Linked DNA regions of Homo sapiens: all the other regions are linked to region 1. The links come from fine-mapping of genetic effects on gene expression. A gene starts in region 1. Each other region holds a variant in brackets. All regions are shown on one strand. Distances are from middle to middle.

The links. PIP is the estimated chance that this variant, and not a neighbour inherited with it, causes the effect.
Region 2: its variant is fine-mapped to the expression of ZFAT in transverse colon (GTEx, PIP above 0.99). The same link has a PIP of 0.9 or more in esophagus muscle, lung, prostate and subcutaneous fat.
Region 3: its variant is fine-mapped to the expression of ZFAT in whole blood (INTERVAL, PIP above 0.99).
Region 4: its variant is fine-mapped to the expression of ZFAT in gastroesophageal junction (GTEx, PIP above 0.99).
Region 5: its variant is fine-mapped to the expression of ZFAT in whole blood (TOPMed, PIP 0.95).
Region 6: its variant is fine-mapped to the expression of ZFAT in sigmoid colon (GTEx, PIP above 0.99).
Region 7: its variant is fine-mapped to the expression of ZFAT in whole blood (TOPMed, PIP 0.94).

Annotation. Positions count from the first base shown.
Region 1 is chr8:134,710,446-134,714,847 of GRCh38, reverse strand. ZFAT (zinc finger and AT-hook domain containing) reads left to right here and starts at 1,817. Exons shown (of 16, transcript NM_020863.4): 1 at 1,817-2,003. The coding sequence starts at 1,985. RefSeq lists an enhancer at 1,806-1,985.
Region 2 is chr8:134,496,429-134,500,830 of GRCh38, reverse strand. All of the region lies in intron 15 of ZFAT (zinc finger and AT-hook domain containing), which reads left to right. Among named protein-coding and RNA genes, the nearest start is that of ZFAT, 210 kb to the left of the region's middle. RefSeq lists an enhancer at 1-323. The variant C/G (reference allele first, on the strand shown) is at 2,572.
Region 3 is chr8:134,931,825-134,936,226 of GRCh38, reverse strand. No RefSeq gene overlaps it. Among named protein-coding and RNA genes, the nearest start is that of NCRNA00250, 96 kb to the right of the region's middle. The variant T/A (reference allele first, on the strand shown) is at 2,197.
Region 4 is chr8:133,927,890-133,932,291 of GRCh38, reverse strand. No RefSeq gene overlaps it. Among named protein-coding and RNA genes, the nearest start is that of LINC03024, 250 kb to the right of the region's middle. The variant C/T (reference allele first, on the strand shown) is at 2,660.
Region 5 is chr8:134,757,745-134,762,146 of GRCh38, reverse strand. All of the region lies in intron 2 of LOC124902071, which reads right to left. It also overlaps a transcript of ZFAT not described here. Among named protein-coding and RNA genes, the nearest start is that of MIR30B, 41 kb to the left of the region's middle. The variant TG/G (reference allele first, on the strand shown) is at 2,391.
Region 6 is chr8:134,491,231-134,495,632 of GRCh38, reverse strand. The region is part of intron 15 of ZFAT (zinc finger and AT-hook domain containing); the gene reads left to right. Among named protein-coding and RNA genes, the nearest start is that of ZFAT, 220 kb to the left of the region's middle. The variant G/C (reference allele first, on the strand shown) is at 1,907.
Region 7 is chr8:134,655,651-134,660,052 of GRCh38, reverse strand. ZFAT (zinc finger and AT-hook domain containing) reads left to right here. Exons shown (of 16, transcript NM_020863.4): 2 at 2,316-2,492. Among named protein-coding and RNA genes, the nearest start is that of ZFAT, 55 kb to the left of the region's middle. The variant G/A (reference allele first, on the strand shown) is at 2,486.

The DNA.
Region 1 (4,402 bases):
GGGGCAGTTTGGGTACATTTTAGATGTGGTGGGGAGAGGAACACTGGGCATGGAGAGGCGAGATCCACACCTGGCTCTTCACTATTTTGCTGTGTAATCTCAGAAAGCCATTTGACCACTCTGAACATTCCATTTTCTCATCTGGAAAAGGACAATAATCATATTGCCCAACTTAACCTTCCAGATTGCGAGGATGAAATGAAGAAGGGGGAGGCTATATCTGTGAGCATATATTTAACAGACTGGACAACTTTAGGGTCTTTTCATGGTTCCGTATTTCCCAAGAACAGGGTTAAGGAGCAGGCGGGCAGTCTCCTGAGAAATCAGATGAGTCATCCTGAAGCTCAATGCCCAAGGGAGTTTTCCTCCTAAAAAATAAGTGACCCCAGAACGAAGTGTTCATTCAGTAATATGACTATGCAACAGGCGCTGAGAAAACAAGATGAAAAGGACCTATAAGGGCTGCTCAGGAAGCTCAGTCTAGTGAGGATGAACGCTGTGCAAACAGAGAAGTGGGGGATGGAGCTAGGCCAGTGAGACCAGAGCTGTGGGAACATGAAGTGTGAACTTCAGGGCTGTCCGAGAATTTCATGTTGAGCAGCAACCAAAGAGGGTTATTCCAGGAAAAGAAGAACAGGCAAAGACTAGCATTTCAGGGGAACCATGAACACAAATCAGTTTCCCAAACTTCAGTCTCCTGAAGTCTGCTTTTACACTTTTTTTTTTTGGGGGGGGGGGGGCATGTCTTTGCAGCATGTACACCATTTTAAGTTGACTGATTTTTGAAAATGTAAACGAACAATTTAAAAACTTTATATGACTACTGTAAGTGAAAAACGTTATTTGTCATGAACAGAAAATGACCTTAGAACATGGACCACATCAACTCATTACTCATGAAATAAATAACTGTCAGGCTCAGTTTGTTTCTGAGGCTAACGGGGTGACCATTGACAGAGGTAAGGGAGGGAGATAATGACAGATAGGAATGGATGCTACGTAGAAAATATGAAGTGTCTTGGAGGGTTACTTTAGATGGGTTTCGGGGGGTGAGGGTTAGGGGCTGGAAGATATCATTTGAGCCGAGGACTACAGTGTTGGAGCTAAACACCTTAACATCAAAACCAAAAACAAAGTCATTAAATTTCCACCAGACTCAGCTGCCTGCCGAAGGCTGTGCCACAAGCAGAGAAATGAATGAGCGGGTGTTGGAGGCGCGCACATCCAGTGCAGACTTGTTGTGGGACAAAAAGAGACGAGAGAGGAGGAAGTCGCCTTGTCACGTGTGATCGTAGGCCGCTCAGTGCTCTGTAGCCCCTAAAACCCAGCCGGGTGGCCCAAAGGAAAGCACCCCACGCTTCGGGAAACGCCGCAGCTTTGAGCGGGATGCAGGTTGGGAGCACCCCGATGGACACATCAGTAAACTGAGAGCAAGAAAAGTTAATTCGCTGCCCCAAGTTAGGTAGTGAGAGGTAGAGCTGGGACACGAAGCGCACCCAGAACTCTCCTTGCACGCCCAGCTCGGCGGCCCCACATGCCGCGGGTCTAGGGTCGCGCTAGCAGAGGCCTGGCACAACCGCCAGACTCCTGACCCCGAGATCCGCGCTCCGGACCTCCCGAGGGCCCCTCCCTGGGCGTGGCTCAAAACGCGGCGCAGCGGAATCCGTGAAGTGGGATAAAAAGCACGGCCTCCGACTGCGAGCATGCGCGTTAGCTCGGCCCTGCCGGGCCGCGCTCGGCGCCGGGGGAGGGTCACCCGAAGCGGACGTCCGCTACGCAGGCGTCTGCGCCCCGTGGGGAGGAGGGCGAAGACTCCATCCGCCATGTTGGATGCCGCAGATTCGCCATAACCTCGCCGGCTCTTTTCTTAAAAAAATAAAAATAAAAAGCGAAGCGTCAGCAGGGCGCCCCGCCCCCTCGGTCGGCACGGGAGGGGGCCCGGAAGAGCCCGAGGCTTTTTTTTCCTCCGCGGTGGGGCGTTGCCATGGAGACGCGGGCGGCAGGTGAGCCGGGCTGGGGGTTGGGGTGAGACGGGGTGGGGGTGGGGCGCGGCGCGGCGCGCGGAAAGCCGTTTCGAGCGTCGAGTCGGGAAGCAGTGCGCCGGCCGCCGGCCGCCGGCCGCCGGCCGCGGAGGGATCCGGGTCTGGGGAGGAGAGCGAACGTAGTTGCGTTCTGCGGCTCACGTTCAGTCGCTGGGGTATCCCGCCGCAAAAAAAAAAAAAAAGCAAGGCGGGAGCGAGTGGGAGAGCATGCGCCCGGCCGTTTCCACGGCAATGGGTGGCGTTGGGGCGCGGGCCAGCGACGGAACGCAGTGGGCGCGAGGTTCGAATCCCGGCGATGCCAGCTCTTTGACTGGACCTTGGCGGGGCTTCCTTCTTGCCTGGCCTCGGATTCCTCCTTGGCGAAATGAGTACCTCCTGCAGGCTTCCCGGCCGCCGGCTGGACCTAATAGAGTGACAGATCTTCCACTTGACACCCGGTGCAAGTCATTTAACCTTGAGCTTGGGGTCCTTCACCTGTAATTACCACAAGCTTCCACATTTGGGCACTGACTTAACACGTTTTGCTGCTCAGCTCTCTTGAGAACTCTAATTTGTAGGTCATTTATTATGAGGAACAGAAGTTCAGAGAGGTCAACTTTACACAGTTTAAAAACGACAGAGCTGGGGCTTTAAAAATTAACTTCCTCCAACTTGGGCTAAAATCCAAACTCCTGCGTGCTCGCCTGACTTGTACCTCCATCTTCTTAGAATAGGGCTTGGCTCATGTAAGTGTTCACTATATACTTAGTGAATGAAAGAACGAACGCGCTAACTGATCACGCCTGCCCATCAGTCTGGCTTTTTTTGCTGGAGTCCAAGTGACCTTTTGGAGATGCCCCGCACAGCTGCCTCTCACCAGCTTTATCTTCCGAGCCTACCAGTTCATCTACTGAAACATCTGTAGTGTGTGTCCCCATGCTGAAGGAAGTAGCGTGTCCTACCTCTAACCCCCAGGGACACCTTTCCTGACTTTAGTTCAAATAACAGCTTTGCAAGGATCCCCTCTGCACGCCAGGCAGGGGTAAAGAGCAGTCCCAGTCGTAGTCCTGCCTCCACCTGCTGCGGTGCTAGATGTGGGAGAATGTGTCCTGGAGTGACAGAGTGGGCCCAGAGCCGAATATTGGGTCAGGAGACCCGAACTATATCAGGCGTGCTTTTTTTTAATTTAATTTTTTTAATTTTTTGGGACAGAGTCCCGCACTATCACTCAGGCCGGGGTGCAATGGTGCAATCTCGGGTCACTGCAACCTCTGCCTCCCGCCCTCAGGTAAACCTCCCGCCTCAGCCTGCCAAGTAGCTGTGACCACAGGTGCGCTGATTAGCTGTGGTGCCCAGCTGATTCAGGTGTGCTGTCTTAGGTTAGCCTAAAATGAGCACCGGAGAGACTTGCTCTCCAAATACAGGTTGAGCATCCCTAATCCAAAAATCCGAAATCGGAAATGCTCCAAAGTCTGAAACTTTGAGCACTGACATGAGGCCACAGTGGAAAATTTTCTATCTGACCTCGTGAAGGTTCTCAGCAGAAATGCAGTTCCATAGCCGGGCGCAGTAGCTCACGCCTGTAATCCCAGCACTCTGGGAGTCTGAGGCGGGAGGGTCCCTTGAGTCCAGGAGTTCAAGACCAGCCTGGGCAGTGTAGTGAAACCCCATCTCTATTTTTCTCAAAAAACAAAACAAAACAACAGTTGCACAACTGTAAAGACGATGCTGTTAACACTCAGAAAGAAATGCAGGCTGAACAGCAGACTTAAAGCCAGCCGTTGTTTATTGTTCTGTTGTTTAGCAGCTGATGCATGTGTTCTGGTGATGCTGCTGTGCCGCTTAGGTACCTTGAACACCTTGTTTTTCACTGTATTAATGGTGTGTCATATTTTTTACTGGTAAGGACTTATGTGTAAATAAATGTAAGAAAGTGATTGTCTTATTGGTAGCATAGAAATTCAGAGTCGGGAATGATGGCGATGCCAGACAACCACAGATTGCCCATATGTGTGGCTGAGATAGTGACACCTTTGCTTTCTGATGGTTCATTGTACACTTTGTTTCATGATCAAAATTAAAAATATTGTAAAATTACCTTCAGACTGTGTGTATAAGGTGCACATCAAACATAAATAAATTTCATGTTTAGACTTGGGTCCCATCCTCAGGTTATCTCACTATGTATATGCAAATATTCCAAAATCCAAAAACATCTGGAATTCTAAAACTTCTGGTCCCAAGCATTTTGGATATGGGATCCTGAAACTGTAGTTTATTTGGGAATAATAGGGGATTGCAATTTAGATACATGCGCTATGCTGGATCATAGGTACGTCCAAAGAAGTTGGGGCAAATGGAAACTTTTAAAGACCCAAAAG
Region 2 (4,402 bases), 210 kb after region 1:
TAGCATGTAGATTCAGAAACAAAAAGTTCATTCAGAGTCTTGGCAATAGGTTACTCTCCCTTGTCACTTAATGCCAGCTCTTGTCCTTTGTAGGCCTTTCCTAGTTCTCCTGTGGTTGTTTGAACCTTTTCTTTTTCTTTGTCTTAACTAAAACTTTTTTCAGAGACTTCTGCTTCTGGTATGACTTTGGATGGCTGCTACTCCACATTGCATCCTTTCCCAAAGCTCTTTTGTTACTTGCTGAGCTCTCTTACACCATAGTAGTTACAGAAAATTCCATTTCTTTGTGAAATTTTTAAAGTAAAAATAGGCCCCATGATATATCTGTGGCCATATGAGAAATGGTCTGAAAACATAGAGAACAAAGGTTATTCTCTGTTTCATTATGGTGCCTTTTTCCCATGCAAGCCATCCTTAGCTAACCTGAGTATGCTCATCTATCCAACTTCACTTTTCTTCCTTTTCCTAAGTCCCCATCTTTCTGTTATTATGCCCCAAGAAGCTACAGCCTTGGTTGGTGCTATTTGCAGAATCCCACTTTATTTGAGTTTTAATACTGCTGAGTTTATTACTGTTTGCTTGGTGCCTGTTTCCTGACCCATGTCCTTAGCCAAGGCAGGTCGGTTTTAATTGACATCTCCCCTCCAGGCAGCTTCACCCTGGGAAGTTGTCCTTGCTGGCTGAGATCACTTGGTCTATTTCAAGTTTGGGGTCAAGGCCAGGCTGTAATAGCCCTGACGGGAGTGAGGCAGAGCTGTCCCGCATATGGAGGAGAGCGCTGCGGGCCCTCTGTAGACTTGTCCTGCCTCAGGCTGGCCCTTGTTTTTCATTCCCACCAGAACAGTAGTCTCCATCCTGGCCGGAGGGATTCCCGGAAACAAGAACTCTTAGTGTCCCCCTCCTTCCTACTCCTCCTATCCATCTGGTGTCCCCAGCTGGTGGAGGGCCTCTTGCCTCCTTGCCTCTCCCACCGGACGTCTGCCCTGTCAGCACATGTGGTGGCCTCCTGCTTCACAAGGGGCCTCAAATGTCCCTCTGGCCCCCGGCCTTACCGCCTTCAGTTAAGCCCTTGCTACTCAAAACGTAGTCCCCCGGCCAGCAGTGTCAGCATCAGGGGGCTTGTGAGAAATGCAGAGTCGCTGGCTCCACCGCACCCCTCCCAAATCAGGCTCTGTGTGTAACCAGCAACGGGGGCATCACGGCTCCACCCCGACCCTCCCAAATCAGGCTCTGTGTGTAACCAGCAGCGGGGGCATCCCAGCTCCACCCCGACCCTACCAAATCAGGCTCTGTGTGTAACCAGCAACGGGGGCATCCCAGCTCCATGCCAACCCTACCAAATCAGGCTCTGTGTGTAACCAGCAACGGGGGCATCCCAGCTCCGTGCCAACCCTACCAAATCACGCTCTGTGTGTAACCAGCAACGGGGGCATCCCAGCTCCACCACAACCCTCCCAAATCAGGCTCTGTGTGTAACCAGCAGCTGGGGCATCCCAGCTCCACCCCGACCCTACCAAATCAGGCTCTGTGTGTAACCAGCAACGGGGGCATCCCAGCTCCACCCCGACCCTACCAAATCAGGCTCTGTGTGTAACCAGCAACGGGGGCATCCCAGCTCCACCCCAACCCTCCCAAATCAGGCTCTGTGTGTAACCAGCAGCAGGGGCATCCCAGCTCCACGCCAACCCTACCAAATCAGGCTCTGTGTGTAACCAGCAACGGGGGCATCCCAGCTCCACCCCGACCCTACCAAATCAGGCTCTGTGTGTAACCAGCAACGGGGGCATCCCAGCTCCACCCCGACCCTACCAAATCAGGCTCTGTGTGTAACCAGCAACGGGGGCATCCCAGCTCCACCCCGACCCTACCAAATCAGGCTCTGTGTGTAACCAGCAACGGGGGCATCCCAGTTCCACCCCAACCCTACCAAATCAGGCTGTGTGTGTAACCAGCAACGGGGGCATCCCAGCTCCACCCCGACCCTACCAAATCAGGCTCTGTGTGTAACCAGCAACGGGGGGCATCCCAGCTCCACCCCGACCCTACCAAATCAGGCTCTGTGTGTAACCAGCAACGGGGGCATCCCAGCTCCACCCCAACCCTACCAAATCAGGCTGTGTGTGTAACCAGCAACGGGGGCATCCCAGCTCCACCCCAACCCTACCAAATCAGGCTCTGTGTGTAACCAGCAACGGGGGCATCCCAGCTCCACCCCGACCCTACCAAATCAGGCTCTGTGTGTAACCAGCAACGGGGGCATCCCAGCTCCACCCCGACCCTACCAAATCAGGCTCTGTGTGTAACCAGCAACGGGGGCATCCCAGTTCCACCCCAACCCTACCAAATCAGGCTCTGTGTGTAACCAGCAACGGGGGCATCCCAGCTCCACCCCGACCCTACCAAATCAGGCTCTGTGTGTAACCAGCAACGGGGGCATCCCAGTTCCACCCCAACCCTACCAAATCAGGCTGTGTGTGTAACCAGCAACGGGGGCATCCCAGCTCCACCCCAACCCTACAAAATCAGGCTCTGTGTGTAACCAGCAGCAGGGGCATCACGGCTCCACCCCAA[C/G]CCTACCAAATCAGGCTCTGTGTGTAACCAGCAACGGGGGCATCCCAGCTCCACCCCAACCCTACCAAATCAGGCTCTGTGTGTAACCAGCAACGGGGGCATCCCAGCTCCACCCCAGCCCTACCAAATCAGGCTCTGTGTGTAACCAGCAACGGGGGCATCCCAGCTCCACCACAACCCTCCCAAATCAGGCTCTGTGTGTAACCAGCAGCAGGGGCATCACGGCTCCACCCCAACCCTACCAAATCAGGCCCTGTGTGTAACCAGCAGCGGGGGCATCCTGGCTCCACCCCAACCCTACCAAATCAGGCTCTGTGTGTAACCAGCAGCAGGGGCATCACGGCTCCACCCCAACCCTACCAAATCAGGCTCTGTGTGTAACCAGCAGCTGGGGCATCCCGGCTCCACCCCAACCCTACCAAATCAGGCTCTGTGTGTAACCAGCTGCTGGGGCATCCCGGCTCCACCCCAACCCTACCAAATCAGGCTCTGTGTGTAACCAGCAGCAGGGGCATCACGGCTCCACCCCAACCCTACCAAATCAGGCTGTGTGTGTAACCAGCAGCGGGGGCATCCTGGCTCCACCCCAACCCTACCAAATCAGGCTCTGTGTGTAACCAGCAGCAGGGGCATCACGGCTCCACCCCAACCCTACGAAATCAGGCTCTGTGTGTAACCAGCAGCTGGGGCATCCCGGCTCCACCCCAACCCTACCAAATCGGCTCTGTGTGTAACCAGCAGCTGGGGCATCCCGGCTCCACCCCAACCCTACCAAATCAGGCTCTGTGTGTAACCAGCAGCAGGGGCATCACGGCTCCACCCCAACCCTACCAAATCAGGCTCTGTGTGTAACCAGCAGCAGGGGCATCCTGCACATTAGAATTTTAGAAGCCTGTTCTCAGCTGTCAGTCCCCCTCCTCTGGCTCACAGAGGATGCTGTTCTCTTTCCATCCTGCTGCTCTGAGATGCAGTTTTCACATAGAAGCCAGGGCGATCTTTTAGAAGTATCATTACATCACAGCAACCCTTACTTTAAAATCCTCCAATAACTCAGAACGTCTCCAGTAAACTTAGAATAGAAGCTCTCCATCGCCCACCAGGCCTGACAGCAAGGTGCCCACCTCTTTCCCTCCACTTTCCTTCTTGCTTCATGGTGGGATGTTTCAAGAAGACCTACCCCGCCCGTGCTGACTGTGGGAGGCGCAAGATCCGGGAGCAGCTGCCTCTGCATAAAAGCAAACACTCCAAGAAGGAGCACGACCTATGGGGGCGGGGGTCCCTGCATGTCAGGATAACCCCTGCCCGTTAGGACACATCAGGTTAGACCCGGTGGTCAGCTTCAGCTGTTGGATTGTCAGGTCCTTCCTGCCCTGAGGGGGCAATTAGGAAGGGAATATTTTCAGAGGGGCAGAAGCTCTCCTCCCTCTCCAGGCAGTGGTGAAGATGGGGCCACGGGGAGGAGTACCCTCCCTCACCCCGTCACAGTTCTTAGGAACTGTGTCACAAACCATATCTAGTGTGGTTGGTTATACACATGGCTTTTCCCCCCAGCAAACTGGAAGCTCCATGAGAGCAGGTGACAATTTGGTCTCACCCATCTCTGGGATCTCTAGCACTTGGCTCAGGGCCTGGTACATTTTAGAGGCTTCATACGCATTCAAAACCGTGAATTCCAGATCAGATGTTGGGAAGCTGAGCTAGTGGGGCCCAGTTGCCCTGGGTGTGACTTGTGCTGAGCAGCCTCATGCTCTCCAGGCTGGCAGTGCATACCCTACCACAGGAGCTGCAGGCCTCTGGGACAGAGCTCCCCTGCCCCGGATGGACAGCACAA
Region 3 (4,402 bases), 220 kb before region 1:
TCAAGAGATGGTTGTTGAAATGAATTAAATCTGCTGACAGCGACACCTGGCAAGCTACCACTCCCGAGTTTTCTCATCCCCAGGCTAAATGTGCCTCAGAGTCTTGAGCCTCTCCTGACCCCACAATCACCCCAAGGAACGACTCCCCACTTTATAGTGACCCCACCCAAACATAATACTCCACAAAAGGTTGAGCGGCCCAAGGCCCTCAGCGCAAGACTTTCCTCTCCTCTGCAGACCACCTTCGTCTCTGCACGTGCCTGGGACAAGACTTATATTTCTGACAGCACCATCACTTCACTGCCTGTGGTCCAGGATAGAGCTGCAAGGAAGAGGCTCCGGAGCAGCCTGCTAAAGCTAACAAAATGGTTCCTGTGTATGGAGGAAGCTGCTGCCCCACAGACATGTGACAGAAAAATTAATCTTTTTACAGATGAGTAGACAAAGGCCTGCAGAGAGATGTGTCATCTCAAGAATGGGGTGTGGAATTGATTGTAGAGAGAAGGGGTCCCCCAGAGGGATAAATAGTGAGCTGTCGTTGTTCATGCTCTGTAGTTTGAAAACAGCTAAACCTCCAGAAACAGAAAGACAAGATTAGAGAAAAATGTGTCACTGGAGGTTTTCTTTTTTTCTTCTATTTTAGACAACTTTATTGGGGTATGATTGACATACAAAAGCTGTACATAATTAATGTATACAACCTGATAAGTTGTATTTTTGTTTTGTTTTTTTGAGACAGGGCCTTGCTATGTTGCCTAGGCTGGTCTTGAACTCCTGGATTCAAGCAATCCTCTTGCCCTGGCCTCCCAAAGTGCTGGGATTACAGTTGTGAGCCACCCTGATGACTTTAGATTAAGTATACACTCGCGAAATCATCACCACAGTCAATTCCATAAACATACGCATCATCTCCAAGAGTGTCCTCCTGCTCCCTTTATTTTTTTTACTTGTGTCTTTCTTTTGTAGTAACTGGTAATCCCATTTCTAGATCTATATACCCAGCAATTGAAATAAGGGTCTCAAAGAACTATCAGCACTCTCATGTTTATTGCAGCGTTATTCTCAATAGCCAATACATAGAAATAACCAAAGTGTCCACAGGAAGACGAATGAATAAAGAAAATGTGCTATATACATTCAGTGGAATGTTATTCAGTCATTAAAAATAAGAAAATCTTGCCAGTGGTGAGAACAGGGATGGAGCTGGAGGACATTATGCTAAGTGAAATAAGCCAGACATAGAAGGATAAATACTACTGGAGGTTTTCATGAGATCTGGTTTGGTGACAGGGCAGGGTAATGAATGGAGAAGTAGTTTTGACTCAAAAGACTTACCTTTAGGTCCTATAAAATCCACGGAAATAACCTTAATTTCTTCAAGCTGAAATTTCTTTCTCCATAGTGGCAGACTGAATTGGATCCAGTTCTTCAGACCCCAGTACAAGTACTCTGCATTCACCCTCCCTAGCCATGCCTTTGCTTTGACTCGGCCATGTGCCCTGCCTTAGGGAACGGAATGTTAGCTGTCATGACAGGAGGGGAGAATTGAGATGAGATTGGGCTGCCATTGAGCCTACTTCTGTGCTCTGGTGATCTGCCTTGACCTGAGCTTCCCTGAGGTGCAGTATCTATTCCTTCAGCCCAGGACCCAGAACTGAGTTCAACCTGCAGGCTGGAGCAAGGCTCAGCCAGTCCCACAGAGCCACCCTACGGAGCCTAGCCAAGATCAGCCTATCCACAGTCAATCAGAAAACCCATGAACAAAGGGAATAAATACTCATTGTTTTATACTAGTGGGAGTCTATGGCTGATTTCTACACAGCGAAAAAGACTGAATACTGGTGAAATGAGGGCAGCATCAATTCTGATGAACTCTTTGCATCATGCTCTGAATCAGAAGTCATGGTAGTAGACAGAGTCTCTTGCACATTATAACACATGACAAATGTAAGGTGTTTATTTATTGTTATTGGGTAAATAAACCAAATGTGTCTCAAATGGAGTGAAAAGAAGAATGTGATTAAATGTAAACAAAAAAGTAAAGTATATTATTTAATTTGTCACTTCAGTCTTTTTACAAAGATCTGCTCATACCCCTTCTCTACTTAAAACTCTCTGTTACTTACAAGCTGTCATAGACACCTTGTCAGGCACTGGTGGCTTTTAATGTGGCTTCATCATGCCTCTCCCACCTTC[T/A]ATTTGGCCTCTCACTCACCCCACATATGGCTCACTGTATATTCCGAGAGCCAAAATTGGACTAAAACATGACCCCCTAAATACCTCAAAACCTTTTACCCTCTGTGAGTTTGGACAAGGCATTGCTATTTCCCAAGTGCCGCCTCCTCTATGAAGCTGCTTCTGCCTTCCTTAGGCAGAGTCAGCCACTCTCTCCTCTAGCTCTCACAGTTCATAATCCTTTGAGCATGTATCCCGTGCTGTGGTAGGCTGCTGCCTAGTAACCCTTCAAGGAACTATTTCTTCCAGAATCCATGCCCTCATAGAGTCCCTTCCCACTAATAGATTATAACAAAATTGTCATTGTAACCTTTCTAGGGCTAGCCCGTAATTTAGCCTGGCAACTTCTGCTTCCTCCCTCTCAGAAGTTTCTTCTAGAAACCCAGCCACCATGTCATGAGGCAGCCCAAGCAGCCACGTCAAGAAGGCTACATGAATGAGAACTGTGGCCCCTGCCTGACAACTCCAGCTAGGCTCTGGTCAAGCCTCTCAACGATTCCAGCCTTCTAGACACCCCCAAAGTTCCAGCCCCAACTGAGCTCCCAGTTGAGTTTCCACATGAGGGAAGCCTTCTCAGCACCCCAGCAAGGCAACGTGAAGAAGAAAAGTTGCCCAATAAACCCAGAAAATCATGAATAGTAATATGCCACTAATTGTTTTAAGCCACTAAATGTGAGGGTGGTTTGTGATGCAACCAAAGATGACTGAAACACCTCTATCTGTCAGGGCTCTCAGTTGCGAACAACAGAATTGATTCAGTCTTTTATTAAAGGAAACTTAGACAATGAAAGAATTTCTGAGAGGGCCCTAAAATCATGCCTGAAGGCTATATATCCAGTAACAAAATCTTATTTACTGCACTGATGGCTCTGATGGAGTCCCAGTGTTGCTGGCCTAACATGGTCACCTTGACTAACACCATGTTTACTACAGTCAAGAGGTCCACCCCTTAACCTGAATGTCTCTTCATCATCATCACTAGAATGGATTTCAAGTTTTGTCTGCTTCTTTATGTCCCACTTTTAAATCCAAGTTTGATGTCATTCCTTCTGAGGAATAGAAACTGGGCCATGTACTATATCCTACCTTTAAAGGAACCATGAAAAGTGAGTATATTAGTTTGCTATTGCTACCCTAATAATACACTTGGTGGCTTACATGGCAAAAATCTATTTTCTTTCAGTCTCAACGTCAGAAGTGTCAATGGGCTAAAAATCAAGATATTGAGCAGTCTGTGTTCCTTCTGGAAGCCCTAAGGGAGAACCCATTACTTGCCTTTTCCAGCTTCTAGAGGCTGCCTGCATTCCTTGGCTCATGGTCCCCTTCACATCATTCTGACCTCTGCTTCCATCCTTATGTCGTCTCCTCTGAATATGCTTCTCTTGCTTCCCTCTGCTTATAAGGACCCTTGTGATTGCTTTGGGCCCTCCAAGATAATCCAAGATAATCCTCCATCTTGATATCACTAACTTAATCAAATCTTTAAAGTCTTCTCTGCCATGCAAGTTGACATTTGATAGGTTCTGGGGATTAGGACCTGCACATCTTTGGGTGGCCATTATTTTACCCAACATAGTGAGTTTCTGAATTTAATCTTAGAAAGATAGAATTCAAAAAGTAGAAAATTCTTCAAAAATGGAAAACAAAATCAGCGACTTTACTAGTGCTGCTTACACATATGTTATGTTTCTGTTTCTTTCTGGTTACATAGGATATTGCACATTCTTGTCCCTATTGAAAAGAGTCATGCCCATGCAACTTGCTTTGGCCATTGAAAAACAAGCAGAAATGGATGACAGTCTTACTTTTAGCAGTGCAAAGCTCATCATGCTCTTTGTCTTTCCTGTCATAGTCACTGGCGAACAGCAGCCTCTCTACCAACCTGAGTCCCAGAGTAAGGCAGAACCCCTAGATGACCTATGATGGACATGCAACATTGATGAGAAATAAATTTTGTTGTGTTAAGCTACTAAGATTTGGGGGCCTAAATTAGCTCATCCCAGTGTTCAAAATATTCAGGACAGCCTAAAGCAGGTTTACTACACACTATTTTGTAATTGTATGCTTCCAAGTATGTCTCTAAGAATGTTTATCCACTGGTCACAATGGAGCTATCTTGGTCAAGATCCAGCAACAATTAATGAATTCAAAGGTCAAACTAAAATCC
Region 4 (4,402 bases), 780 kb after region 1:
GCAGACATGAAGACTAAACATGATGTGGTATCCTGAGTGGGATTCTGAAACAGATAAAAGATATTGGATTTGGGACCAGTCTAGACAACATGGCGAGACCCCATCTAAAATACAAAAATTAGCCAGACGTGTTGGCAGGTGCCTGTAATCCCAGCTATTCAGGAGGCGGAGGCAGGAGAATCACTTGAATCGGGGAGGCAGAGATTGCAGTGAGCTGAGACCATGCCGCTGCACTCCAGCCTGGGTGATGGAGCAAGACATTGTCTCAAAAATTAAAAAAAAAGATATTGGAAAAAACTAAGAAAATCTCAATAAAGTAAGGACTTTAGTTAATAATAATGCATCAGTATTTGATTCACTAGCTGTGGTGAATGTGCCACAGTAATATAAGATGCTAACCATAGGGGAAACTGAGTGAAGAATACATAGGAACTTTCTGCATTATCTTTACAGCTTGTCTGGAAATCTAAGGCTACCGTAAAATAAAAATTTATTTAAATATAAACTATAAAACTTCTAGAAGATAAATTAAAATATACATAACCTCGGGGTAGTGACGGTTTCTTACACAGAACACAAAAATAAGAAAACCTTATAAAAAAAGATTGCTAAGAGTTGGACTATATTAAAATTAGGAACTTCTGTTCATCAAAAGATGCCATTAAATGAGTAAATAGAAAGCCACAGGGTGGGAACAAGATGTTTTCAATAAATATTATCTATAAAGAATTTGTGTCCAGGATAATGCTCTCTGTCTTTTCTCTCTCTCTCTCTCTCTCTCTCTCTCTCTCTCCCTCCTATAAATCAATAAAAATCAGAGAACAAACACAATTGGACGAATAAAAAACAAAAGCACTAAACAATGCATAATCAATGAATATGAAAATGTGTTCAATGTCACTAGTAATCAAGAAAATGCAAATTAAACCCACTGAGATAACAATATATCTGACCAGAATGGCTAAAATTAGAAAAACTGAAAATACAAAGAATGTGTAGCACTGGAATTCAATACTCTGATAGTGGGTGTGAAAATTGATACAACCGTTTTTGAAAAACTGTTAGGCCATATCTACTAAAGCTGGATATAAACATACCCACATACTCTATGGCTTAGCAATGCCACTCCTGAGTCTATATCCAGCAGATGCATAGGCATATATGCACTAAAGAAGTGCAAAGTGTTCATAGCAGCAAGTCCTGGACTAGGGTGAGGTCAGCAAGGCACCTAGGGTGCACAATTGAAATAGGCTGTCATTCTCAGGATCATGTAAGTGCTGATCCTGCACTTTGCAGAGCCTTGAGGGTGCTTGGTTCTTTAAATTTTGTTCCCTAGGTGCCTCCCTTGCCTCACACTAGTCCTGACCCCAATAGCAGCATGTTTTATATCAGCTGAAGTGGACGCTGTTAAAAATGACCCCCGGATGTCATCTGCTTTCCTGTTGCAGTGGCCACTGTCAATGGCTTGTACCTGCAACCTCCTCAGAGCACTGCCCTGAGCAATTGGGACTGCCTTCCCCAAAACTTCCTAAGAGGTAAATTCATATGCACCACCTTGGGTGGCCCGGAGCCAGGACTGACCACTGGAGAAAGCAAAAGCCTCACTCTCTTTCCTTAAGGCAGGCCAGATTCCGTGGTGGAATTTATGCTCCAGAGCTTCCTACAGGATCAGACTGGGGCTGGGCTTTACCTGAACCCACATTTACCCTTAGCTTCTCCCCTAGCCACAGAACTTTCCCCATCCTGCTTCCTTCACCTCATTACTGGTTTCTTCTAAAAACGGCTTCTCAGTGAATCACTTGTACAGGAATTCCTGTCTTAAGTTATGCTTCTAGGAAACACGACCTATGACAAGCCCCAAACTGGTAGCCACCCACATGTCTGTCATAAGAAATGGATCAACAAATGATGTTATGTCCATACAATGGGAAACAAAACACCCATGGAAATGAGTTAAACTTTGTTACATACAACCACATAATAAAGTACATAGTCATGTCATTAGGGAAAAACACTAGGTATAATAAGTGGATACCATATTATAACCTAATACACAGTTTATAAACCAGCATAATTAATCTGGAGCAAGAGAAGCAAGGACTGTGGTTGCCTCTGGGAAGAGGGAGTAGCAGGTCACAGCCTAAGAAGAGTTTATGGGATTCCAGGATTGTTCTATTTCTTAATCTGGTTAGAGGTTAGATGGGTGTGAGTGGAATTCAGGTAACATTCTTGTAATATTAACGAGGTCAATGGAGAGAAATAAATTTTATAAAGGTTTTATAAAACAGACTATAGATGGTCCCCAACTTATGATGTTTTGACTTGACTTTTTTTACATTATCATGACACAAAAGTGATATGCATTCACTAGAAACCACATTTTGAATTTTGATCTTTTCCTGTGCTAGCATTACTCTGCCATGATGCTGTAGCAAGCCACAGCTCCCAGTCAGCCACAGGATCAGAGCGGTAAACAGTGTTTAGTGTTTTCACATCCCATCATGTCTACAAAATGCCCATCTGTATCTCCTGCTTCTGGTGAGAAGAAAAGAAAGGCAATTACTCTTGAGATGAAACTCAAGATAATTGCCTGGCATAAAGGCAGCAAGCCAGTAATGACCAGTGCAAGAGGAGTTAGGACTTTCACAATCCACTATCT[C/T]GGCCGTCTTAAAGGAAAAGAAGTAAATCAGTAATGCGTGAAATTGTCAGCATTGGTTAAATCCATCATCACCATGAAGAAAAGAGCTGAGCAGATTTATGATATGAAAAAATTACTTGTCATGTGGACAGAAGACCAGATACAGAAGTCCACACCACTTATTCTCCTAATGGTCCAGACTAAGGCAAGAAGTGTTTTCAATACACTAAAAGAGAGTTTCAGTGACCTCATGTACACAACATGCTTATAGCAAGGCACGGGCAGTTCCAATCCTTCGTAAGTCATTTTAATTTTTATAACGTGAAGGTCAGTAGTGAGGCAGCAAGTGCCAATACTGAAGGTGTTGAAGCTCTTAAGAAAGGGCTGCAGAGGGTAATTGTGAATTAGAAATATTTGCTGAAACAAATATTTAATGTCAATAAAACAAGCTTGTTCTGGAAGCATATGCTGGAGAGTACATACACTCATCAAAAGTCCAAACAATGCCAGGATCAAGGCATTCAAGAACTGTGTAATGCTGCTTTGGGATGGAAGTATTGCAAGGTGCAAATAAAAGACTTTCCTAATCTACCATGGGGAACCCTAGAGCATTCACAAACGTGAGCAAGTATGCATTTCCCTTTATTAGCTCTATAACAAGAAACCCTGGGTGACATCTGCATTGTTTGAAGACTGGTTTTGAACAGTTTTATTCCACAGGCAAGAGAATATTGTAGGCAAAACAACATCTCATTCGAGATTCTTCTGATCTTAGACAATACTCCAGGGCATCCACAGCATATTGGGGACATGCATCCTGCTGTGAAAGTTGTGCATTTGCCACCACACATACACAACCGCACTGATTCAACCAACAAACCAAGGCACAATAGCTGTGTTTAAAGCACACTACTTATGCCAAACGTTTGTGCAGGCTGTTGAAGTGACTGAATCTGGCTGTATCTGAAGTTTACTGAATCTGAGTTTTAGGAAGGTTTTAACATCCTAAATACTGTCCAGAATATCACTGCAGTATGGGAAGAAGTCACACAGCAATGAATAAATGGCTTTTGAAAGACAGTTTTGAAAACATATGTGAACACATTCAAAGGCTTTAACAAAAATTCTGCTGTGGATGAAATTAGTAAAACAAACACAAGATATTACTGCTTGGGAACTGCTAGAGTTGGACAATGATGAAGAGGATACTCACGAGCTTGTTGGCATTGAGGCTGGAGAGCTTTCCAATGATGACCTGGAAGACTGAACTGGAAAAAAAAAATGTAAAGAAGTTGAGGCAGAGGGAGGAGAAGTTATACCTGAGGCACCAAGAATGTTAACAGCAAAGAAACTGGCCAAAGTATTTGCTACTATCAGAAGTGGTGTATGGAATTTAGAAGAAATAGTCAATTGTAAGAGATTCACAGGAGCCGACCAGCAGAAACAGGATGGTCATGCTTGCTATAGGGAAATATATAACAAAAAGAAAAAATCTATGCAGTCAAAATTTGATATCCTTTTGAAGAACACTATACAGTGTTGGTGTCTCAGTGCCTTTACCTGCCAATCTCTCGCCCAGGGGTCCCCAACCCCTGCACAGTAGGAGATGAGCAGTGGGTGAGTGGGCAAAGCTTCATTTGTATTTACAGCCACTCCCCATCACTTGCATTACCACTGGAGCTCCACCTCCTGTCAGATCAGCAGTGGCATTAGATTCTCATAGGAGCATGAATCCTATTGTGAAATGCACATGTGAGGGATATA
Region 5 (4,402 bases), 47 kb before region 1:
TACTTGATGTTGGACTTAGCTCATGACTTACTTTGGCCAATGGAGTGTTGTAAGATGGGCCACAAACAAAGGCCTTAAACGTATTTGAGAAGTTTGGCTTGGCCTCTTGTGGTCCTGTGGAAAGCACACATTTGCACACACACACACACACACACACACACACATACAGAGAGAAAGAGAGAGAGAACTGAATAGCTGCTGGTCCAGAAAAAATGTGAAGACATGAGGAGGGGATCTGGCCCTAATATGAACCTTGAATCAAGTTTAGCCAACCTGCGACCTGAAGTGGAGCTCCCCAAAAGATCATGGGCTGATAAATGAGAAAAATAAGTGCATATTGTTGTGACTTATTGTTGAAAAATAAGTGGTTATTGTTGTGACTTATTGTTGAAAAATAAGTGCTTATTGTTGTGATTAATTAATTTATTTTATTTTACTTTTTTTTTTTGAAACGGAGTCTCGCTTTGTCGCCAGGCTGGAGTGCAGTGGCACGATCTCGGCTCACTGCAACCTACACCTCCCAGGTTCAAGCGATTCTCCTGCCTCAGCCTCCCAAGTAGCTGGGACTACAGGCATTTGCCACCATGCCTAGTTAATTTTTGTATTTTTAGTAGAGACGGGGTTTCACCATGTTGGCCAGGATGATCTCGATCTCTTGATCTCGTGATTTGCCGGCTTCAGCATCCCAAAGTGCTGGAATTACAGGTGTGAGCCACCATGCCTGGCCTGTTGTGATTTATTGCACAGAAAATCCAGATTGGGCTAAGCTCCCCTACTATGTGTTTCCATAGCCCTCATTCTTCCACTGTCATAACTCTAGATGCATGTATCACAAATGCTTGCTCTGTCTTCCCTCCCATCATACCCTCAGTCCTTTGAAGGTCTTGGTTGTGCCTGTATCATTCATAGTTGTATCCTCAGTGCCTCATGCAGTGCTCAGCCCACAGTAGGGGCTCAATAGATATTTGTGGAGTGGAAAGGATAAAGTACAATGATTTGAGCTTGAGAAACACCAATCAGCAGGGCTTTCTGTACATACCAGGCTCTTTGTCTCACTATGGAGAGTTGTGTGCATTGTTGACATCTGCTATAGGCAGTTTGTCTCCTCTAAGATAAAAGACCAGGAAAGACTATAACATGTGATCCCTTCCGGTGTCTGCTCATCCATACTATCAAAATCCTAACCATCCTTTAAGACCAAGCTCAATTCCCAGCTTACTTAGGAAAGAAGCCTCTCCTGGATCCCAGATCCAGCTGGAATTTTTCCCCTTAGTATTTACAGCAGTTAGCACCTGTCTTGTAACTTTGAGCAGATGTTTATTTAAAATTCTCGTATGTTCTCATTGTAATCCCATCCCCCTCCTTCCTTCACCAATTAGACTGCTTTTTGAAAAGTATCCCTGGAACCTAGCCCAATGCTGCACACATAAAACATCTCAATAAATGTTTGTTAATGAATAGTTACTGAATAAATCAATGAATGGATACTTTCATTCACACCTTTATTCCTCCCAGCATTTAGTACTGCTTTGCACATTGTGGGTACTTGAGAAATCTGCACACTCACACCCCCACTCACCCGCCACTCCTGCAACTTCTCCAATATATGGGAGAGGACTGACAATTTTATCTAGTCTTCTGGGTGATTCCTGAGTGATTCTCCAACAGAGAACAGATAGAAATGAGGTAAGTGTGGTCCTCTCTCATTCTAATCCCTTGTAATCTGGGCCTGCCAATAGAATTGTTGTGTTTACCAAATCAATGGTCTGGTTCTGACTTTCTTCCCTATGGATGTTCTTTAGCATTTTGCATTGCTTATAATCCATGGGAAGATGTTTGTTTGTTTGTTTTTTGTTTGTTTTTTTTTTTTTTTCTTTTTGAGACGGAGTCTCCCTCTGTTGCCCAGGCTGGAGTGCAGTGGCATGATCTCGGTTCACTGCAAGCTCCGCCTCCTGGGTTCATGCCATTCTTCTGCCTCAGCCTCCCGGGTAGCTGGGACTGCAGGTGCCCGTCACTGCGCCCAGCTAATTTTTTGTATTTTTAGTAGAGACGGGGTTTCACCGTGGTCTCAATCTCCTGACCTTGTGATCCGCCCGCCTTGGCCTCCCAAAGTGCTGGGATTACAGGCATGAGCCACCGCACCCGGCCTCTGTTTGTTTTTTTTTTTTTTTTTTTTGAGACGGAGTCCTGCTCTGTTGCCCAGTCTGGAGTGCAGTGGCATGATCTTGGCTCACTGCAACCTCCATCTCCCAGGTTCAAGCAATTCTCCTACCTCAGTCTCCCGAGTAGCTGGAATTACAGGTGCCTGCCATCACATCCAGCTAATTTTTGTATTTTTAGTAGAAGTTTCACCATGTTGGCCAGGCTAGTCTCAAACCCCTGACCTCAGG[TG/G]ATCTACTTGCCTCAGCCGCCCAAATTTCAGGGATTATAGGCATAAGCCATCGCGCCCAGCTGGGAAGTTATTTTAAAAATTCAATTCTAAGTATGAATTCAGTTGTAGAGTTTCCTGAAACTCTTCAGTTTGTTTCTTGATTTTTTTTTTCCTAAATGAATAATTATGTTCTTTGCCTATGGTCATATACTAAACCACAACTCTCTTTCAATACCACCATCCTCCCTCCACCAAAGGTTTGATTTGCTATAAACTATCAATATTGAATTGGCAATTTACTACTGTTCAGAATTTTGATGTCCCAGATAATAGGAATCTTGGGGTTCCAGGCCTTTCAGTGGTGGAAGAAGAGGTAACCTGGGATTTACATCAAGGTAGCTGCCTATTCATGGGGGTCCCAAATCTACCTGGCTCAGTAGGAAGAATGTTGGCCCAGAATGAGGCCTGACCCTTCTCTCACTTAATGATTTCTGAGTCCCTCTTGCTGGATCTGCAAAATGAAAATTCGACTTACCTCCCAGGTCCGTTGTGAGGGTCAAATAAGAACCTGTGTAAGTTTTCATAAACTTTATAGTGCTATACAAATATATAGCATTGGTAAAGCCATCTCCTCTATTGATGAGTCCTGCCTCGTGTCTGAATTCTAGCATTCAAAATTTATACCTTTCCCTAAAGAAAGACTTTCATGAGTTTTGATAGACAATGCTGTTTGTCACTCCAATAGTCAGTCCCTTCTCCCTTGCTAACATGACTGCTTTTATTTGGGGCAGTGATGGGCTGTGGATCATGGATCCTGGATCCATCATGATTCATGGCACATCATTGCCCCAAAGGTGGAGCACCACATCACTGGTTCCCTGAGGTGGAGCACCCACCTTGAGGTGGACCACCACATCATGCTTTTATTTGGGGCAGTGATGTGCCACGGATCAGGATGGATCATGATCAGTATCAGTCAAAGGAATCCTTGATGGAACATTTGCTCTCCCAGCACTCCCATGCAACAAAGGGTGGTCTTGTAACCCAACCCTGGCCAATGAGATATAAGAACACATTCGCTGATAAGTTGCCAGAGACAAGTTGTCTCCTAGTAGGAGGAAAACCAGCTTTTCCATTCCATGTCTTTCTTTTCTTTCTGTCTTGAACATGGTTATATGTAGACACAATGGCCAGGGCCATGAAAAGCCATTTTGCAAACATGAGGCAACAAGCCTAGGGACAACAAGCTTAGGCAATAAGCCTCCTCTACCTTCCCCAAAACAGAACCAAAGATTGGAGCCAGTAAAGCAAGATGCTTAGTGCTGACTCTTAAACTAAGCACAGAGAGGTTAAGTAATTTGCCCAACATCACACAGCTAGTAGGAGGTAAAGTGGAGAGTTGAACCCAAGTGTTTTATTCCCAAATGACTGTTTTGTTTTGTTTTGTTTTTTTCCACTGTATCTTTTTTCTTACCTGTAGTCCTGGTCTCTTCCTGCACTCACCCTGGGTGATCATACCCAGGATCATGCTTTCTAGCAAAGAACTCCAAATCTACATTCCTAGCCCCAGGCTAATAAGAGCCAATCCCCCTCACATTTCTGCTGGATGGTCTCAGGCTGTCTTACTAGTACATCAAGCTCCTATGTCTAAAACTGAACTCATTTATCCTTGCAACTTCAATACTTTTTCCTTCTCTTGATTTAGTTCATTTGAGTTCGTGGAATCTCAAGTCTGCTAGTCATCACATGGTGTTGAGGACAGAATATAGGTTTTGAAATCAGAAGATTTGACTTCAGATTGATCAGCAGTCAGTTGCAGAATCATTGAAAGGGTTGAAGAAATCGATCTCTGTTGAGCTTGCAGGCACAATAACCAAAGCCACAATGCCGATCTGAATTGCCAAGAGAGCTGTTCCCCTCTCTGGTCCCCTCGGGACCATGACTGTACTAGGGAGAGAAACCAGCATCACCAGGAGGCAGCCACTGCCACTGGCAGCTCCAGCCCCAGGACATATCTGCTACAATTCACCC
Region 6 (4,402 bases), 220 kb after region 1:
TGGCAGAGCTTATTGCTTGGTCCAGGGAGGTAAACACATAGTTACACAAATTAACATGATTGTGGCTCAAAATCATTTGACCCCTTACAAACTCCAGTTGTTGAGTCATTGTGAGTAATTCCCTTAGAGGAGGCCCTGGGGGAGGCATGATGATGAACCGAATGCTCACGTTCCCCCCTTAATTCATATGATTGAAATCTAATCCCCAAAATGATGGTATTTGGAGATGGGTTCTTTGGGAGATGATTAGGTCGTGTGAGTGGAGCCCCATGAATGCGATGAGTGCCTTAATAAGAGAGGAGAGAGCTTGATCTCTCTCTTTCCACCATGTCAGAACACAATTACAGGTCAATAATCTGCCCTTGGAAGAGGGGCCCGCACTGTAACCTAACCATGCTGGCTCCCTGATCTCAGACTTCTAGCCGCCAGAACTATGGGAGATAGATTTCTGTTGTTTATAAGTCACTCAACCTGTGCTGCTTTGTGACAGCAGCCTGAGCTGAGACCAGGCTGCTTTGGAATTGCAGATGCTGAGGGACATTGCCCAAAGTCAGGGGAGCTGGGCAGGTGGTGGTTCTGTGTGAGAGAGACTTAAGACCAGGCCAAAAGAGAGTCGAATTAAGTAGAATTAAGTAGATCTTCCTACTCTGAGAGAGAAGTACGTGGGTCATGTGGATTTGAAGAGCAGGAGCTGGTGTCTTTCTGGGGTTTCAGCATAAGATCGGAGACTGTCATGTCAACACCAGTAGGGTGAATGTCAAAGCTTCACTGGTGCTCAAAACAAGAAGAGATAGTTTCTTTTTCTGTTCTTAGATGTACTTGCTACTAATGAACTTACCTCGATAAGTTTGATGAGTGATTTAAATGGTTTATGTTTTGTTATGATAAACATATTTTAAACAAAAAATAAAAACACTTTATTCCTGGGAGTTTGGTTTTTCTACCTTGGGCAAGGGCTGTTGCTCTGTGGTTATCCAGGGAGGAATACGACCTGGGTCCTGCCAGCTCCGTTTTCCTTCACTGCTCGGTTACCAGCAAGGCCCTGGTGGGGTTCCGTGGAGGCTTCAGGTCACTCATGTTCAAGTACTGGGAAAGAAACTGCTAGTGGAAGCAGATTGCTTAATTAGGGGGAGAAGAGTGTGCGTCAGCTGAGGAAAGGAGCCAGGCGCTTCCCCAGCAGGCACCGAGACAGTGTCCTCGAGATGGCCCACTAAAGGGCAGCGGATCGATCCTGTCCCCGCAGCTTTATCGAGCACCTGCTGCCCTTCAGGCTGACAAAGCCACCAGCAAAGAGAAAGGCCGGGGCCTGCAAGGATGGTCACGGGGGTGATTTTGTGAAAGTCAGGCAGGTGGAAATGTACAAAGGAAACTACTCCTAAAGTACAGTGGAGGGGACTTGGGTGAGAAAAAGCTGAAAGGTTTGCCCAACCCCAACAGCCGCACAGCTGTGCAGGGATCACCAGGCAGGGGTGTGGAGGGAGGAGAATGTGTAGGGAAGAGAGTGCTCCCTGTGTGAGGACCGGGCAATGCTGTAGAGCTGCCACGCCAGGCCTGGCACTAAATCAAATAGAGATTCAGTGTATGTGCACTTAAAGGGGAAGAAAGTCAAGTATTATGCACAATAAATGTGTCTAAATATCAAAAGATATTTGTGAGGAGGGGGGAACTCTGCCTGCCTCCTTCCCTTTCTTAGTGAATCTGCTCTGAACTGTTTTAGCACAGCTTTGAAATATCTCCTGGGGTCCACATTTGAATAATTCAATTCAGTGTTTATTGAGTGCCTACTATAAGCTGGGTGCCATATGGCCATGGCATGATGGTGTGGAGGGGATATGTGAAGCACACGGGCAGCAGCTTAAGTGCATGGGAGCTTGGCTCAGCCGGGGAGGGAAGGGGGCAGCAGACC[G/C]TTCCTCCAAGGAGGGCCGGCATCCAGAAGCAGTCATGAGTGCCGTGCCTCACGCACCTGCCCTGTGCCAGGCACTGCCCCCTGCCCCGCCGTCTCTTCATTCCCATGCACTCTCTCTACCATGTGGAGCTCTCTAGTTTCCCACAATTTACGAGAGAAGGTTTCCTTTTCTAGTCAAATGATTATTCAGATCAAACTAAGCAATGCCTAGACTGCCGAGACATGCAAGAGGTACAAGATGTTCTAGTCATGGGCATCCTCTTTCTGTTGCCCAGTGAGTTGGTTTGGCCAGTATGGAAACCTTTTCATCCTCTTCTTACAGCACTGAGGCCAGGAAGCCTGCATTGCTCCTCTCAGCCTGTTTCGAAGGCCCTTCTCTCTCAATGAAGAGAGCTGGCCCTTCCCGTTCCCCTCAGGCCCAGGGACCTGGTGGACAAGTCCGTGTTGCAGGTGGCAGCAGAGCTCTCCAGTGCCTGGGGCTTAGGAAACAGGGTTGCAGCTGTGTTGGCCGGTAGTGGAGTCTCAGTGTTGCAGAGACCCAGGTGACACAGGAAATGGGTGGTGACTGCCATTAGCAGGTGGCCTTTACAGCTTAGGCTTTGCACTGTGCATGGGATTGATACCTTCGGGAAAGAAAATATGTCTGCTGTCTACTTACAACCAAGACAAAAAATAGGGTGGAGAGGCAGCATTATACTGTCTTCCTCCATGAAAGGTGTCTAGCCTGACAGTGGGATGAATCATGGCCTTCCTCACTTCCTGTGCATTCTTTCCTCCCTAAAAGGCTTTAAATCTCCGTTGATGTATGGAATGGCTTCTTCCTGCCTGTGAATATCTCCTGATATTTCCACAAGTTTCTTGCACATATTGCCCCCTCAGAACACCCTTCTTTTTGTCCTGTGCAGGTATATATTTCTGGAGTTAGGAATTTATGATGTTTTTTACAAACCACATTCATTTATGCATTTTCTTTCCTCTATAAATTCAGGATTGTGTTTGCTGTTTCCCTTTGTTTCTGACTTATACAACTCCACTCTTCACCTAGGGTTGTGAAAGCAAATGTCCTTACTTGTTAACCTTGTAAAATGGTCCTGCCAGTCCCCCTTTTGAGAATGAAAAGGAAGCTATTGCTTGGTTATAATTTAAGCAGTGAGTGAAGCCCTAATCCCTGGAAAAAATAAGGCTTCTTCCCCAGAGCTTAAACACACACAGGGGAATATTCTACCTGTAAGAATCGACTGCAGGTAGATTCTTTTTTCATTCTTGTTGTTAGGTTGTATTTGGACTTTTGTCTGCAGTCCTCTAATTCTTACCATAACATGGAGTCTACGAATTTCTGAGTGGAAGGGACCATAGAAGATGTTGGCCATTTGGGAGGAAATAATGAATTGCACGCTTTCCTTTGATCTCGAGGTATGGAAGCATCTGAGAAACAAGACATGAGTGAATCAGATGGTAATGAGAACAACAGGAGAGGAAGAGGAATTGGAGACCAGTTGAGCCATCTAGTCACATGCAGGGCTGGGCAACAGCAGGGCAGCTCTTCCTAGGAGGGCAGTTGCTTGCCGTAGCACGTGGAGTCTCAGCCCGATGGACCCAGGACTCCCCTTGAATAATGACTACCTTATAACACTCCTTTTACTCACCTGAAATGAAATTCATAGATTCCTACACATGCATGACTGAAAAAAAAAACAAAAAACAAAAACAAAAACAAAAAAACTCTAGTGTCCTAACTGAAATAACAAGAAGTAAATGGAAAGTTATTAATTATAAAATAAAAAATTGAGTATTTTAATATTCAGACATGACTATACCAAGATACAGTGGTTGGCAGGACAGTGGTGCCCCAGAGATGTCCACGTCCTCATCCACAGAACCTACAAATATGTTAAGTTTTACATGGCAAGCGGGAATTAAGGTTGCTAATTAGCTGAATCCAAGATGGGGAGATTATCCTGGATTATGCACATGGGCTCAGTGTGATCACACGTGTCCTTAAATGGGGAAGAGGAAGGCAGTAGGGTCAGAACCAGAGAGATGACATCGTAAGAAAGACTCCACCAAATGTCGTTGGCTTTGAAGATGGAAGCAGGCCACAAGCCAAGGAATGCAGGGGTCTCTAGAAGCTGGAAAAGCCAAGAAAGTGGATTCTCTCTTAAAGTCTCCAGCCGGGATCACAGCCCTGCTGAAATGTTGATTTTAGCTCAGTGAGACCCATTTCAAACTTCTGAACTCTAGAACTGAAAAATGATACATTTGTGTTGTTTTAAGCTGCTAAATTTCTAGTAATTGGTTAAAGCAACAATAAGAAAATGAAATAAAAACCTAACAATGTGGTCAGGTGCCTTCTCCTAAGCGTAGTGTCCACTCTGGGTGCACCAGCCACAAGCACAGGCCAAGAGCACATTGTGACTTGAGGGTGAGACTACTAGTGTGAGCAGCATCGCTGATGCCGGAGGGCTTTCGTAGAGCAAATGAAGTACAGTCTTCCCT
Region 7 (4,402 bases), 55 kb after region 1:
CATTTTGGGTTCCTTAGGAATAGAACGTTTCCTGGAAAAAAATAATATCGATTGGCAGTATCTGTGAGAGATTTTCATTGGCGAAGCAATGTTCTGCTTTGTTAAATTTTGATTTCATGTGTTGTTGGTAGGAAAGAATTCTCTCAGGTCGTTACCTCCCTGCTAATTCACGGAGAAAGTCTTTCTGTGAACCCAGGGAGGGGCTTGCTCCTGGGACTCCAGTGCCTTCCAAGAGCTCCACCTTCATGCCAGCAAGGCTGGGTTGGCCTATTGCCTTTCCTCATTTCCTCTTTCTGGTAGGAGAGTTTTACTGTAAAGAGGAGAGAAATGGGTTGGGGGAGTGGGGATCAGGAGTTGTTTTCATTTTAAGATGGGAGAATAAGAGTATGCTTATAGGCCAATGGAAAGATCTAGTACAGAGGGAAGAATTGATGACCTGGAGAACAATCATCAGAGAGGGTGAGTTCTGCACGCACAAGCCATCATGCACCCTTTGTCTAGTAGCCTTCTCACACAGGGATGTGGGAGCATCTTCCTGGGTGCAGGCAATCAGGCATGCGCTATCTTTAGAGAATTTGAAAGTAATGATCACACAAGTGAAGTGTTGGTCTGCTTTTAGTATCTCCATGAACCAGCAATTCCAGACAATATCAGAGATATGATAGCCCTGCTCTGGGGTGGGCCACTGCTCTCACCCGCACACCTTGTGTCCCCCTCACTATGCCCACCTTCAAACCAGCAGGAGCGAGGTGGGGAGACAGCTGAAGACGCAGGCGGGCTGGAAGGGGTGGCAGAGGCAGTTGTTTTCTGGCTGCTTGCAGTGAGATATGAAGCAAGGTCAGCTGTTGAGAGTGAGGAGCGAGGAGGATGAGATACTTGCTCACCATCACCAGAGAGCGCAGAGCTTGTATGATTGCCATGTATTTGTCCAGCATCACCAGGCAGTAAATGGCGTAGAAGTTGCATGTGACTTCCAGGCAGCGTTGAGCCTCCCCAGGAGGCTGGTGAGGGGGATGCCGAAGGGAGCCAGGTGTGGATTGCCAGCCGTCCAGCTGCTGGGCGAGGGCACACCATGGGTGCAGAGTTGCGCCGAGTCAGTGTTGTGCTTTCTGAGTGTCTGCTGGGTTCTTGCTGCTGAATAGGCAAGTTCCATCCCCAAAGTTCCTATGGATTCCAGCAACTGACAGATGACTGCTTCTCTGAGGTCCTCAGCTTTCCAGCATTTAGGGACGAGTTGGGAATTTAACCTGGGCCTTTTGGCTCCAAAGCCATTGTCCTTTTCAGTGGACAAAGCCACTTCCTTTCAGTCTGAATGTAAAAATAATAATACAAAGATCTGGCTTTTAATTGTTATTGAATCCTGAATTTAATATTTTGTATATACCTATAATTATTTTATCAGTCTAAAAAGTGAGTGTTTTATTTCCCTTATTATGTCTTCCTGCCTAGTATAATGAGATGAACATAATGAACTATTGGTAAATTTTTTGAACAATGAGAGTGCTTTAAATAGGAATTCAGTGGCTTTAAAAAGGCAACAAATTCCTGCCGTTTCATTGAAAGGTGCTGGGCTGTTGAGAAATGCTATTGTGGTCAACTTTTCCTTGTGCGTAATTTGAGAGAATCTAGCAAGACTGCTTAATTGCCATCAGTGTGCAGTTCAGTCATTTGAGGGGTAGGATTTAGTTTTTTAAGTTGCAAATTTTTTTTTTTTTGGAGACAGAATCTCGCTCTGTCGCCCAGGCTGGAGTGCAGTGGCGTGATCTCGGCTCACTGCAAGCTTCACCTCCCGGGTTCACGCCATCCTCCTGCCTCAGCCTCCCGAGTAGCTGGGCCTACAGGTGCACGCTGCCATGCCTGGCTAATTTTTTGTATTTTTAGTAGAGACGAGATTTCACCATGTTAGCCAGGATGGTCTCGATCTCCTGACCTTGTGCTCCGCCCGCCTCGGCCTCCCAAAGTGCTGGGATTACAGGCGTGCGCCACCGCGCCCGGCCGCATATTTATTTTTTACTTGGCTGTACTTATCCCAGAATCTGGGCTGATGAGTAGATTTGGGTAACAAGAAGGTTTGTATTAGACACTATCCAGAAGGACTGAGGGTTGAGATACTGAATAAAGAACTTTCTGGCCCCTGGATCTCCCTGAAGATGAAAGTGAGTGGCCTGCCATGGAGGTGACTGCCAGAGAGACACAATCTGGTAGAGGCTGGTGATGGCTCAGAAGGGCAGCTTTCGGTATTGTCTTTGGCAATTGGAAGTAATAATTGTTTATGTGGAGATGAAATAACATATTTTCCTTTTTTTTCCTTACAGAAAACACGGCCATCTTTATGTGTAAATGTTGTAACCTCTTCTCACCAAATCAGTCGGAACTCCTCTCCCACGTTTCAGAGAAGCACATGGAAGAAGGGGTTAATGTTGATGAGATTATTATTCCCCTTAGGCCTCTGAGTACACCTGAACCCCCCAACTCAAGCAAAACC[G/A]GAGATGGTAAGGGGGCTGGGGGGTGGGGCAGGATACCTTCTGACACACCTGTTGATGTTGATTTGCTCCGTGGGCATAGCAGAAGCCTAGAAAATCCACATTTCCAAATCAGAAGTCACAATAAGTCTCCAATTGTAGATATGCTCAAATAAGATTGTGCCTTTGAAATCCCATACCTAGCCCCCTGTAGGTTGGCAAATGAATGAATGAAAGAATGAATGGAAGTGGCAGTATTCAATAGTGTGAAAAACATGAGCTTGTTGTCAGACAAGTGTGGGTTTAACCCAGCCCTAGTACCTACTGGCTGCATTACCTGAAGCCAATGATGTTACTTCTCCAAGCCTCACTTTGCTTATCTGGACAAATGATGAGAAATATGCTGGTTACAAGGGGGTCTGTGAGGATGAAGTTAAAGAATATGCCTACAGGACCTAAGATGATGCCTGGCACACAGAACATGATAAAAGGAAGCTGTTGTTCTAACGTACATGATTAATAAATAAGTCTATATAATCTTACAGCATTTTCCAACTGTTCCTATAAACCTGGAACAAGGATTCACATTGCAAAGCTTTGATTTGCACAGAATCCTTTGGGTTCACAGTCAGCGTGCAAAGTGAGATGCATCTTGTCTGTAGTGTCTGGACATCTGTCACTGTGTGGTTATCCGATGCAGCAGGTGCACGGATCAGAGAAACCATCCAGGCACTGTAATTAGGTCCCCACAGACAGAGAAAACATATAGCACATGAGGAACCGCTGCAAAGATCCTCACAAAACACTAAGATAAAGGACAGCAGCTGGGCACCTGTGCAGAAGCCCAATGCATAGCAGTCAGTGTCCCATTGCAGAGTTCATCAGCCACACTAATAATCCACTGGCTCTTTCCTGGGAATATTCAGGCTGGCATTTCTAAATAGGCTGGCTATTCATCATCTGTCGGACACCATTAACAAGGAGAGATTCCAGACAAAAAATGTTTTGGTTAATAAGTCCCTCTGGTCATTCCCAGGGTTCTCAGAGAAACATGCCTGACAGAAGATTAAGTTTTTGGGAAGTTAGGAAGTTCTGAGAGTTACTGTTAGTGGCATAAAGTGAAAAATGAAAAAGATGCAGCACCCGAAGCTAGTGGTGGGTGAATAAGGAGCAGCAGTTAGTATTTCTTACTTCTGTCATCACCGTCAGCTAATAGGGTGTGTGTCCATGGCGTGCTCAGCCCCTCACAGGCCTTGTGAGCAGACCTGTCCTCTCCCCATTTAGAGGAAGCAGGAGTGAGGAGGAAAGTTATGTGTAATTGCGTCTCAACCAGTAGCGCACACTTGAGACCCTTTGCTTTGGGGTAGAGGAGGAAAGTTTGCATGGGACAGTGAGAGTCAGAACCTCCTTGGTGCCAGGGGCCTTGCAGTTCAGCGCCCTCCCTCTGCCCACCCAGCCTGTGTGAGTCCTGACCCCTGGCCAGAAGCTTTGTGACACCCACACTCTCCATGGCCCACTTCCCTGCTGAGCAGTCAGTGACTTGCTTTCTGAAGAGTATAGCTTCACAGAGAGGGCTTTAGTCAAGAACTGTGTTTAGTCACCTCCGCCTTTTGGGCTCAAGCATTCCTCTCACCTCAGCCACCTGAGCAGCTGTGACTACAGGTGCCCGCCACCACACCCAGCTAAGTTTTGTATTTTTTGTAGAGACAGGGTTTCATCTGGGTACCTGCCTCTGGGGTTGAATGTATATGGACTCAGAAAAATGGATAATGTCTCTTGTCCAATTCATATGGCAGATCGAAGCCATGTGGATCAAGGTGGAAAGAACTTCTAGACTGGCTCTTGCAAAGCTTTTAGTTCTTTGCTTATTAAGATTCTCTTCTTTCTAAATGAGTTGTAGATAAGAGAGAAATTTTAATTTTTATTTTTTTCATTTTCTT